Linked DNA regions of Homo sapiens: region 2 is linked to region 1. Evidence: fine-mapped expression QTL. A gene starts in region 1. The other region holds a variant in brackets. All regions are shown on one strand. Distances are from middle to middle.

Region 1 (5,462 bases):
TTACTTCCTATAATGCTCTAATACTTCTACAAGTGTTTGTCTTCCTAAACCGTTTGGCAAAGTCCTTAGGAAGCTTTTTCTATTTCCCTTCAGAATGATTATTTCGGACTCTGAGTCTTGGATGGTCGTCTCTACAAGCTCCCAAAGGAAAACACCCATGTGGTTTTTGCCTGCTTGAGGTAAATACCACCTTAGGCCAACTACCCCATCTGTAAACTGGGAATAACACCAGATTGCAGGGATGTTGAGGAGGGTTAATTATATACAGAGTGTCTAAGGGTTGAGCAGATACACAAGTGCTCTGGAAGTTCTTGGCATAATACTATAGCATTACAATAATTCTGGCTTGCAAATTATACCCCAGCAGAGGTATCACATGGAAAAGTGGATCCGACTCTACGGCCTGATGAAAGTGACATGGAAAAAATAAGTTATGAAATATAACTTCTCTTCCTGAACTTTTGGAAAAGGCAGAGATAACCTTTCCATGTGCAAGACACATGCAGGGAGCAAGCTTCCAGATTCTGGTGAGGACTTTCTTGTCTCAGGTGGCCTGGCCTATTGCCAGGATCTGAGCCCAGAAGTAGAAATGGGAAGGAAGGGAGCTGGGGAGGATTTGTGGTTGGATGAAAGGTGGGGCTTAAAACAAGGATGTCCTTGCCTTTCAGGTTTTCTACTGGGGCCTCCTTACGTGCAAGATAATTAAGTGCCAATGCGACAGAGGAACAATTTAAAGGGTAACGGAGATACTTAAGTCTAGGTATATTCAAAATAAACATCCTAGCCAGGTCAACTTCTGGGTCCTCTCTGCATGCCCCAGACACATCACATCTCTCTCTCTCTCTCTCTCTCTCTCTCTCTCTCTCTCACACACACACACACACACACACACACACACATCCCTTAGATTATTTCCTGTGAAATGCTAAGTAAATAGATCTCAGGCAATGAAGATGCTCTGTAGCTGGTGATAGTATCTGCGACTGTGAGACGTCACATAGTGGGTTTGGAAAATTCAACTGGCCACAGAGGATGACAGTTTTGTCTGACCAAGGAGGGAAAGGGCAAATAGCTTGATTCTGGAATAACAAATTTGAAGTCAATTTCACTTTACCACTGTGTATGGCTGAGCAGACAGAGGTCAGCTTCAGGATAAGACCGAGTTCAAGTCCTGCTTCTATCACTTCTGTGCTGTGGCCTCAGGCATGAGTCTGGGTGGGTTACAGAGAGGAAGCAGTAACAGCTCTCAGGCCTTCCCTGTCCAAATGTCTCAGATTGAAATCTGAGTTTGACCTCTACTTCCAGCGTGGCCAGAACTATGATGTGATCAAAAGAGCCCCTGGCCTTGCTGTCTGCCCTCACAGTTCCCACTGTTACTACAGGATATGGGAAAAACAGACTCCCCCAAAGCACATCTATAACAGACAGACAGCAAATGCAGATTATTGATTTGGGCTATTGTTTTAGTAAATCAACATTCTTAGAGAATTTCTCAGCTCTCAGGTGCCCACATCTTAGAGTTAAGTCACATTTTGAGGGTTGCCCAGGCAAATTCAAAGCAGCACCAGGCCCTAGTGGCAGCTACTTCATCTTTAGGCAGCATTTCCCTCTCAACAGGGAGCATGCCACCTCCCCTGGGTGCAGATCCCAGGAAAAGTTACACTGACCAAATCAGGCCACTCCCTGGGACTGTTTCCTCAATTTTGGTTAATAATCAAAGGATGATCTGAAATCGCAAAGAAGAGACTCTTGGAAAAGACATAATTATGGTGCCACCCGACTTAGGAACTGGCATCCAAGTCCACCTGTGTGACTTTCCTCTGGGCCTCAGTTTCTCCATCTGTAAAATGAGGTCCTGTATTTATTTTTTGAGACGGAATCTCCCTCTGTCGCCCAGGCTGGAGTGAAGTGGTGTGATCTCGGCTCACTGCAACCTCTGCCTCCCAGGTTCAAGCAATTCTCTGCCTCAGCCTTCCGAGTAGCTGCTGGGATTACAGGTACCCGCCACCACACCCGGCTAATTTTTGTATTTTTAGTAGAGACGGGGTTTCACCATCTTGGCCAGGCTGGTATTAAACTCCTGACCTCGTGATCCACCCGCCTCGGCCTCCCAAAGTGCTGGGATTACAGGCGTGAGACACCGCACCCGGCCGAGGTCCTGTATTAAATGGATCCTTGCCAGCTCCTACAACATAAGGCATTAAATGTTCCCACAACTTGCTCCCCGCCGGCTGGCAGCGAACAGGGCTAAAGCCTCGACTTCCTCAGAGGTGAAAAGGTAAGCAAACATTCCGACCTCCCCTAGCCTTGCTCTCGGATTGGTGCTGGGCCCGGCTCCCACCGCCTATCCCGACCACATCCGTCATCTGGACTGCTAATACACTCATTAGCATAAAGATTCCTCCGAAGACCTGGCGCACGGGGCTGAACCGGAGTCTGTCCCTTTAAGGAAGAGGGACAGCCACTCTGTCCCTAAGGGCACTAGGCACTGCATTTCCTCCACACGGGCCACGCTGTAAACTAGACAGGTTCCGTGTTAATCCACTCTCCCTCCTCAACCCCGACAGGGGGATCCCTGGAGTGAACAACGCGCGGGGTCCCGGGGGACTGCGGAAAGGTTTGGCCTCTGCGCGTAGCAGGCTCCGCCAGGCAACCTCTCGCCCGAGGCGGCGGCGAGCTGCAAGCTAGGTGGAGCCGGCTGCGCGGCGGGACCCCAGCGCCCTGGGGCAAGACCCTGGTGCTGGCGCCAGGGCAGCCGCGGGAGGTGGCGTGTGCAGGAGCGGAGAGGTGCGCCCACCCCGGCCCCGGGCGCGAGGGGGGCGGGGCTTGGGCCGCGGCCCGGGGCCAGGCTCGCGGGGATGGGCGGTGCTGGGTCTGCGGGAGCGGGCGGGGGGCGGGGCGCGCGAGCGGGCTCCGGGGGGGCGGGGCGGCGGCGCGGGGCGGGCTCTGGCGGCCTGAGTGTCACACACGCGGCGGCTCGGGAGGCGGCGGCAGTGGCAGCGACAGGCGCCGCCGGGACGGGCACGGGCGCGCGGGCTCCGGCGGGCGCCGGCTGCCTTCCTCCGTCGCTCGCTGTCTCTCCCGGCCGCATTCTCCTCCGCTGCGGGGCCGAGCTCTCCCCAGCGCTCGCAGGAAGGAAGAAGGGAGCCGAGGACGCCGAGAAGTTCCCGCGGCAGCCGCGGATCCCGGCCAAGGCGGAGGCTGCGGCTCCGACGGGGCAGGAGCGCGATCCACGGCGAGGGGCGTACGGCCAAAGGGTCCGCGGCGTGGAGCGCTCGGACCTTCCGCTCTCCCCCGGGCGTGGGCCGGGACCCCATGAGACGCGCCCACGAGGGGCGCGAGATTCCTAGCTTGGGCGGCGCTAGGCGGAGGGAGGTGTTGCAGCCGCCGGAGCCAGAGAGCTGCCGGCAGGAGGCGGCGGCGGCAAGAACTTGAACTTGGCGTCGGGAGCGGGCGCCCCGGACGCCCCCCGCCGGGGCCGGGGCGCCGAGGGACCTGCGCCGCAGCGCTGCCCCCCGAATGGCCGCGGCGGCGGACCGGGCTCCCGCGCCGCGGCCCTAGGCGGCCTCTCGCCATGGCCAAGTGGCTAAACAAGTACTTCAGCTTGGGCAACAGCAAGACCAAGAGCCCCCCGCAGCCGCCGCGGCCAGACTACCGCGAGCAGCGGCGCCGAGGCGAGCGGCCTTCGCAGCCCCCCCAGGCCGTGCCGCAGGCCTCCTCCGCCGCCTCGGCGTCCTGCGGTCCGGCCACCGCCTCCTGCTTCTCAGCCTCTTCGGGCTCGCTGCCCGACGACAGCGGCAGCACCAGCGACCTCATCCGCGCCTACCGCGCGCAGAAGGAGCGAGACTTCGAGGACCCCTACAACGGGCCTGGCTCGTCGCTGCGCAAACTGCGCGCCATGTGCCGCCTGGACTACTGCGGCGGCAGCGGGGAGCCAGGCGGGGTCCAGCGCGCCTTCTCGGCCTCGTCCGCGTCGGGCGCCGCGGGCTGTTGCTGCGCCTCCTCGGGCGCGGGGGCCGCCGCGTCCTCGTCCTCGTCCTCCGGCTCTCCGCATCTCTACCGCAGCAGCAGCGAGCGGCGGCCCGCCACGCCGGCCGAGGTGCGCTACATCTCCCCCAAGCACCGCCTCATCAAAGTGGAGAGCGCCGCGGGCGGTGGGGCCGGGGACCCCCTGGGGGGCGCCTGCGCGGGCGGCCGCACCTGGAGCCCGACGGCCTGCGGAGGCAAGAAACTGCTCAACAAGTGCGCCGCCTCAGCCGCGGAGGAGAGCGGGGCCGGCAAGAAGGACAAGGTAAGGTGCCCCTTGGCCTCTTCCCGAGGTTCCAGAGCCACGGTGCGCACGGGGAAACCGAGGCACCCGCCGCTCTGGTGTTGAGTCTCTACTTCAGCTTCGGCCTAGGACCCTGGGTCGGGGCTGGCGTGCTGCTTCCCGCTTCTGCCTCCTCCCGCGCCCTTTTCCTGGGACCGGCGGCCTCCTGACCCCACCTCTTTCGCCGCTGCTTCCAGAACGTCCCCTCTGAGCGAGAGCGCCCGGCCCAGCCTTGCCCCAGGAAGACGGACCCAGTCAGTCCTTCTGGCTGCCAAGGAGTAAAGTCAGAGTCAGAGCTGTCTAGGACTTCGAAGAGCTTTGACTCCTGACACCCCTTATCCCAGCCTCCACCCTCCGCTCACGCTGTAGGTGGGAAACTGAGGTCCAGAGCAAGGAAGGGACTCGCCCAATATTACACAGCTTTCTTGGTGGCAGATCCGGACCGGCTGTCTCCAGCGTGTATATGTAAATCTCTCGCGGCTGCCCTGCCCGGCCCTGCCCTGCCCCACCCCCAGCTCTAGGTTTCCAAATCCGGGCTGCCTGGTACCGGAGCTGCTCCGGGAACCTCCACGCGTGCTTTTCCGGTTGAAATGCGCTGCCTGCAAGAGCGCTCCTCATCGAACCCGTCAGTTCCTCCCGCTGCGCGCGGGAGGGGGTCAGCCTATCAGGCCCGGCTGGAAGGAGACCCCACCCCTCCTATCCTCACCTGCTTCCTTCCTGACCTCACCCCTACCCCATAAGGTCCCAGGAACACGGGGGGACTTTGTGACAGCCCCCTTCCTAACGCATTAGGCCACCTAGATTCCTCCCTTTGAAGCAGACGAGTTAATTACAGCCAGACTAGGTCCCCTCCTCCCCCTTCACACTCCTGTGAAGCCCTCCCTTCCCCCATAAAATAATACTTGTTCTGTCTTCTGGTGGAAGGCAGTGTTTTGATTAAATCTGAGGCCCGGTGGGAGAGCTCCTTCCTTCTCAGCGCCCTGGTGCGTGGCTGTTGTTCTCCCCACCTTCTTCCCCCAAAGGTAAACCTTTGCCCAGGCCTGGGCTGGGGGAGACTGATTAAGAGTCTGAGTTCCTTTTAGGACTGGATGTCCAGACAGGAGGGAGACAGGCTCTTACCTGCCATCTGGTGCTTGGAAAGGGATCTTTTTTG
Region 2 (5,000 bases), 47 kb after region 1:
GACCCAGCCTGGCCCGGAGCCCACCTCCCACAGAGAGCTGTCCACAGCGATGGGTGGTTGGTCCTTGTAAGGGGAGGTAGGGGGGTTCTTCTGTGAGGCAGTTGTGGTGATTATACTCTGACATTTTTAAAGATGATTTTAAGAGGAAAGTTAGTGGTATAGGCATTGAAGAAATCGTGTGGACCTGGGAGTTTGGAAACATGGGTTGGGTTACCTGGTCCTGGCATTAACTTTACTAAGTTCATCCCCACTCACAGCCTTCTGTCCCCAGTGGATAAATGGTTTTCAAACTATGCATGGTGTCACTTTCTTCAGTGGTGCATGTGTAAGATTCCCTTTGCAGAAATCATGCACACACAAGAGTTTGAGATCTAGCAGAATAGACCATCCCCCAGGGATCCTTTCAGTAGTGGCTGCAGACCCCTCCCCGGGTGTTTTTGTCCTCAGGAGGGATGTGCTGGATTTTCTATCCATAGTCCCTGGCTGAAAGCACTTAAGAAATTCTAGGATTGAGGTATTTCTGAGTTCAAAATAGAACCTCCCACTACTTGAGAGATGCTGAAAAGCCTGTCTCTACCACTTGAGGTTCTGGGGTAAACAGAGGGTGGAGCCAGGCTCTGTTCCCAGCAGCCTCCTACCCAGGACCCACAGCTCACTCTGAGGGGGTGAAGCTGGAAGACAGTGGGCTGTGTGTGTGTGTGACGGAGAGAGAGAGGCTGAGCAAGCAGGCTTGAGAGGAGCTGACAGAGGCTGGAATTTGGAATGTGTTTTTCCTAACAAGTCGGAGCCTGCAGGTGTCTAGGCAAGCAGCTGTGGCCGTGGGAGGGGCAGGACTGGAAAGACCAGTGGTGACCACTTTAACCCCCCACACTCCCAGCCTCCTGACATGTGGGGCAGGTCACTGTCAGGTCTGTAAAGGAGCATTTAGGACAGAACACCTTAGGTCAGTAGAAAAACGGATAGTGGCTGCTGGGAGACAGATTTCAGCTCAGTGTAGGGAAGACACTTTAGTGGTGATGGCCGTCCCAGAGGACTGTGTTGCCACATCATGAGCTCCCTGCCCCTGAAGGCATGTGGGCGGAGTACTTGGCAGGGGCCTTCATGATGCAAGAGGGGGCTTTGAACTTTGAGGCAAGCCAGATCTTAGAAGGTAGAAAGCAAACCAATCCTAAATGGAGTGGAAAACCAACCTCCCCACCGTCTGATTTCCAGCAGTTGCAGCTGAGTGCATGAATGTAGCTAATTAATCTTCCCTAAATTAATTTCCTTACCATGTCAGCAGTGATTTATTGGCGTGCCTATAAGGAGAGTTGGTCTATGATGATAGTCAAAGCTGAGGACAGGAAGAGGCGAGTAGGGGGCGCTTGTGTGTGTACCTGCATGGGTGTCCCATATCCCTGAGTGGTGTAACAGCCTGGTGCTGTGGACCCCTCAGGGCCCTGGATGCTGGCCATAGGCAAGTCACACTTCTGTCTCCCAGCACACAGGCGGAAGTGCCTCGAGAGTTATGAGAGGTTCTCCACCACTTTGCCAGGTGCCCCAACTAGGGCATGAATCTTACCCAAAGCAGGAAAGGGGGGAAAAAAGGGCATTCACAAACATTTTCCTTTTTGTGTTTGAGAAATAGGACAGCTGTTGTCATGCATAATTGTACCCATTTTCCCTGGTAATCACCGGGGCCTTGGCGGGGGTTTCTTTTCACGTCTTTGTCCTGTCTTCCCTACCAGATTTTCATCTTCTCGTGGGCAGAGACCCTGCCTGAAAGTGCTTTTGCCCCTCACCGCACTTACCTTCATCCTGGAGGTGCCATCTGCTCTGTAACAAGGACACGGCCTTTTCTTTATAAATTACTGACACATCCTTGGATCATCTGATTATTTGCTCCTTACAACGTTTATGTGAAGCTGAGAAGGCAAACCACCCTGCTCCACTTCACAGGTGACCTGCCGAAACTCAGAGAAAACAGGTTGCACGGAGTTACCCAGCAAGGGTGTAGCAGAACCAGTTCCAGAGCTCCACTTGCCTGGACTGTCCCTGCCTGGC[G/T]GCATCCTTTCTGCACTGCCAGCTGCCTTTCTGTATATTTACATAGCCTCGGGCAGCTGCTGCAGCCCAGCTGCCACCGGTCAGCCTTGGGACTTTGGAAATGCTGCCTGCCTCCGCCATGGCAGGGGTTCTGCAACCCACTTAGCCAGTCCTTAAAGCCAGGGCTCTGCTTGGGGCAGCTCAGACCTCTACGTCCAAGTTGAGTCTGGGCTTTGCACTGTATGTGCACTAGAAAGATACTGAGTGTGGCATCCAGCCAGCTGACCTTCCCCCCAAAGCAGAAGCCCATCTTAGAGCCTCTGTTTGGACACCCCACGCAGCAGGAGCTCCCTTTCCCAGGCAGCGTGTTCCTTTACTGGCTGTCGATGTCTTTCCTGAATCACCTGGCTTGTGTCTGTATGGCTTCTGGGTCTGCACAGAACATCTGTCCACTACCGCTTCTCTGAGCGGCCTCATCATTATTTGAAGCCCTCTCCAGACCCCCAAATCTCTGTTTCTGTAATGTCATCTTTGTTGGCATGGCAACAGAGCCTCCTTCCTGTGGACATCAGGCCCGCTAGGGCCTGTGTTATGGGGGGGTCCCAAAGGAGGACTGGGACTTCAGGCCTCGGAGCGGGGACAGAGGCACTTGTGCTGCTGCTGCCGCCTCACGTCCCCAAATGCTATTTGCTCACCTTCAAGGAGCCCTCCTGACCCTCAGAGCTGGGGAGAGGGCCAGGGCTCCCGGCAAGCCAAGACAAAGAGCCCCAGGCCATCATTCTCTCAGAGTGACCCTCTCACAGTCAATGACAGGCCTGTGTCACACACCAAACCGCATTTTTAGCCAGGTGAATAATGAGTGTTGAATTACGATGCAGTCGACGCGTCGCATCTGTGCACCTGCTGCCTTGCTAAGGTAAAGGAGAGAGTGTCTTGTTTTCACTGTTCATTACTGTGGCCCTAGACAGGGGGGCTTGCTTCATGACCTTCCTATGATGTGCTCAACAACACTCTGTGGGTGTATGTAATGTGATGAGGGGAGGCACAACTTCATCAATGATCATATTCTCTAAGAGATTAGTGGCCCCCAAACTGTTAAGGAAATTAATGTATAGTCTTAAAGGTGAATCAGTGAGAAAATGGTCTGACTGGGAGCATTGAGAACATTCTCAAGTGCATTCATATGCGGTTTGCTTTGGCATAGAGCAGAAGTCAAGGGCCTGGCAAGAATCAGGGGCCTTGTGGGGTGCTGCCCCCTCACTTTCCGGGGAGAGGAGAGCAGCACAGAGACCCTTCAGCCAGCAAGACACTCTCTCCTTTGCCTTAGCAGGGTGGCGGATGTGCAGATGCGACGTGCTGACTGCATCATAATTCAACACTCATTATTCACCTGTCTAAAAATGCAGTGTGGTGTGTGACACAGGCCTGTGCTGTCCCACAGACAGCAGGGCACATGAAGGTGACCATGGGGCAATAGGGACAGTGTGGGCCACTCGATCCTGGAAGACAGCAGCCAGTCTGCCTCTCTCATCATTCTTTTTTTTTTTTTCTTTTGAGACAGAGTCTCGCTGTGTCACCCAGGCTGGAGTGCAGTGGCACGATCTCAGCTAACTGCAACCTCCGCCTCCTGGGTTCAAGCAATTCTTCTGCCTCAGCTTCCCAAGTAGCTGGGACTGCAGGCATGCACCACCACGCCCAGCTAATTTTTGTATTTTTTAATAGAGACAGAGTTTCACTATATGTTGGATAGGCTTGGTCTTGAACTCAGGGTTATCTGACCTCAGGTTATCTGCCCACCTCGGCCTCCCAAAGTGCTGGGACTACAGGTGTGAGCCACCGTGCCCAGCCTCATCATTCTTTTTTATTTTATTTTTATTTTTTGAGACAGAGTTTCGCTCTTACTGCCCAGGCTGGAGTGCAATGGCGCGATCTCGGCTCACCACAACCTCCACCTCCCGGGTTCAAGTGATTCTCCTGCCTCAGCCTCCCAAGTAGCTGGGATTACAGGCATGCACCACCAGGCCCAGCTAATTTTTTTGTGTTTTTAGGAGAGACTGGGTTTCTCCACGTTGGTCGGGCTGGTCTCGAACTGCTGACCTCAGGTAATCCGCCCGCCTCGGCCTCCCAAAATGCTGGGATTACAGATGTGAGCCACTAAGCCCGGACATGCCTCATCATTCTTTTTAGCAGGTTTGAGCAATTTCAGCAGAGATTCCCTTTGCATTTCTGCAGTGGCTCCTCTTCTGAAGTGCCACCAGCCCTTCCTGTAGCCGGGTGATCTTCCTAGAACGAGTTTGCTGAGAGTAAATTGGCCTTGGCCTGAAAGCTGCTGTGGGTTTCAAACAGAAAGCCTTGCCTTGCAAGATCCTCGGGGCTAGGATCCCTGTTGGGCCACCCCCCCACCCCGTCACTTTCAGGGTGGTGACAGGGCAGAAGTCTTTTTTTAAATTTATTTAAATTTTTATTTTCATAGGTTATTGGAGAACAGGTGGTGTTTGGTTACATGACTAAGTTCTTTAGTGGTGATTTGTGAGATTTTGGTAGCCCTCTCCCCCTGCACAGGCCGAATTGCTCAATCTGGAGCCAGCCCACATGATTGCAGAGGGGTTACCATTTCCTCCATGTCTTAGATCCTGGAGATGGCACGTCGGGTCCTCTTTTTCTCCAGTTGACCACCAGGGAAGAAAACAAAAGAGCTGCATGTTAGCACAAACTTCTTGCTTCACTTCAACGAACAGGGCTGAGCAATACCTGGGAAAAGTACAATTCCAGAGTAATATCTGGAGGCTTGTCTCTAGACTGGTGGGGAAGGGTGCTGGCTCTAGCTTATTGTTTCCCAAGCTTTCCTGATAAGGATCACCTGGCTTGCTTGTTAAAATACAGATTATTGGGGCTAGGAATCTGTTTCCTTAACAAGCGTTCCAAGCCATTCCTGTCTTCAGGCAAGTTTGGGAAACATTCTGTCTACTGTACCAAAA

Evidence for each region. PIP is the estimated chance that this variant, and not a neighbour inherited with it, causes the effect.
Region 2: its variant is the best candidate, but not a certain one, in a credible set for the expression of SHB in sun-exposed skin (GTEx, PIP 0.56).

The regions. Positions count from the first base shown.
Region 1 is chr9:38,066,758-38,072,219 of GRCh38, reverse strand. SHB (SH2 domain containing adaptor protein B) reads left to right here and starts at 2,993. Exons shown (of 6, transcript NM_003028.3): 1 at 2,993-4,291. The coding sequence starts at 3,575. It overlaps LOC105376039 (a long non-coding RNA gene), which reads left to right. Exons shown (of 4, transcript XR_007061483.1): 3 at 94-179; 4 at 669-793. RefSeq lists silencers at 2,583-3,392, 3,813-3,862 and an enhancer at 3,753-4,556.
Region 2 is chr9:38,020,244-38,025,243 of GRCh38, reverse strand. The region is part of intron 1 of SHB (SH2 domain containing adaptor protein B); the gene reads left to right. Among named protein-coding and RNA genes, the nearest start is that of SHB, 46 kb to the left of the region's middle. RefSeq lists an enhancer at 3,269-3,778. The variant G/T (reference allele first, on the strand shown) is at 2,044.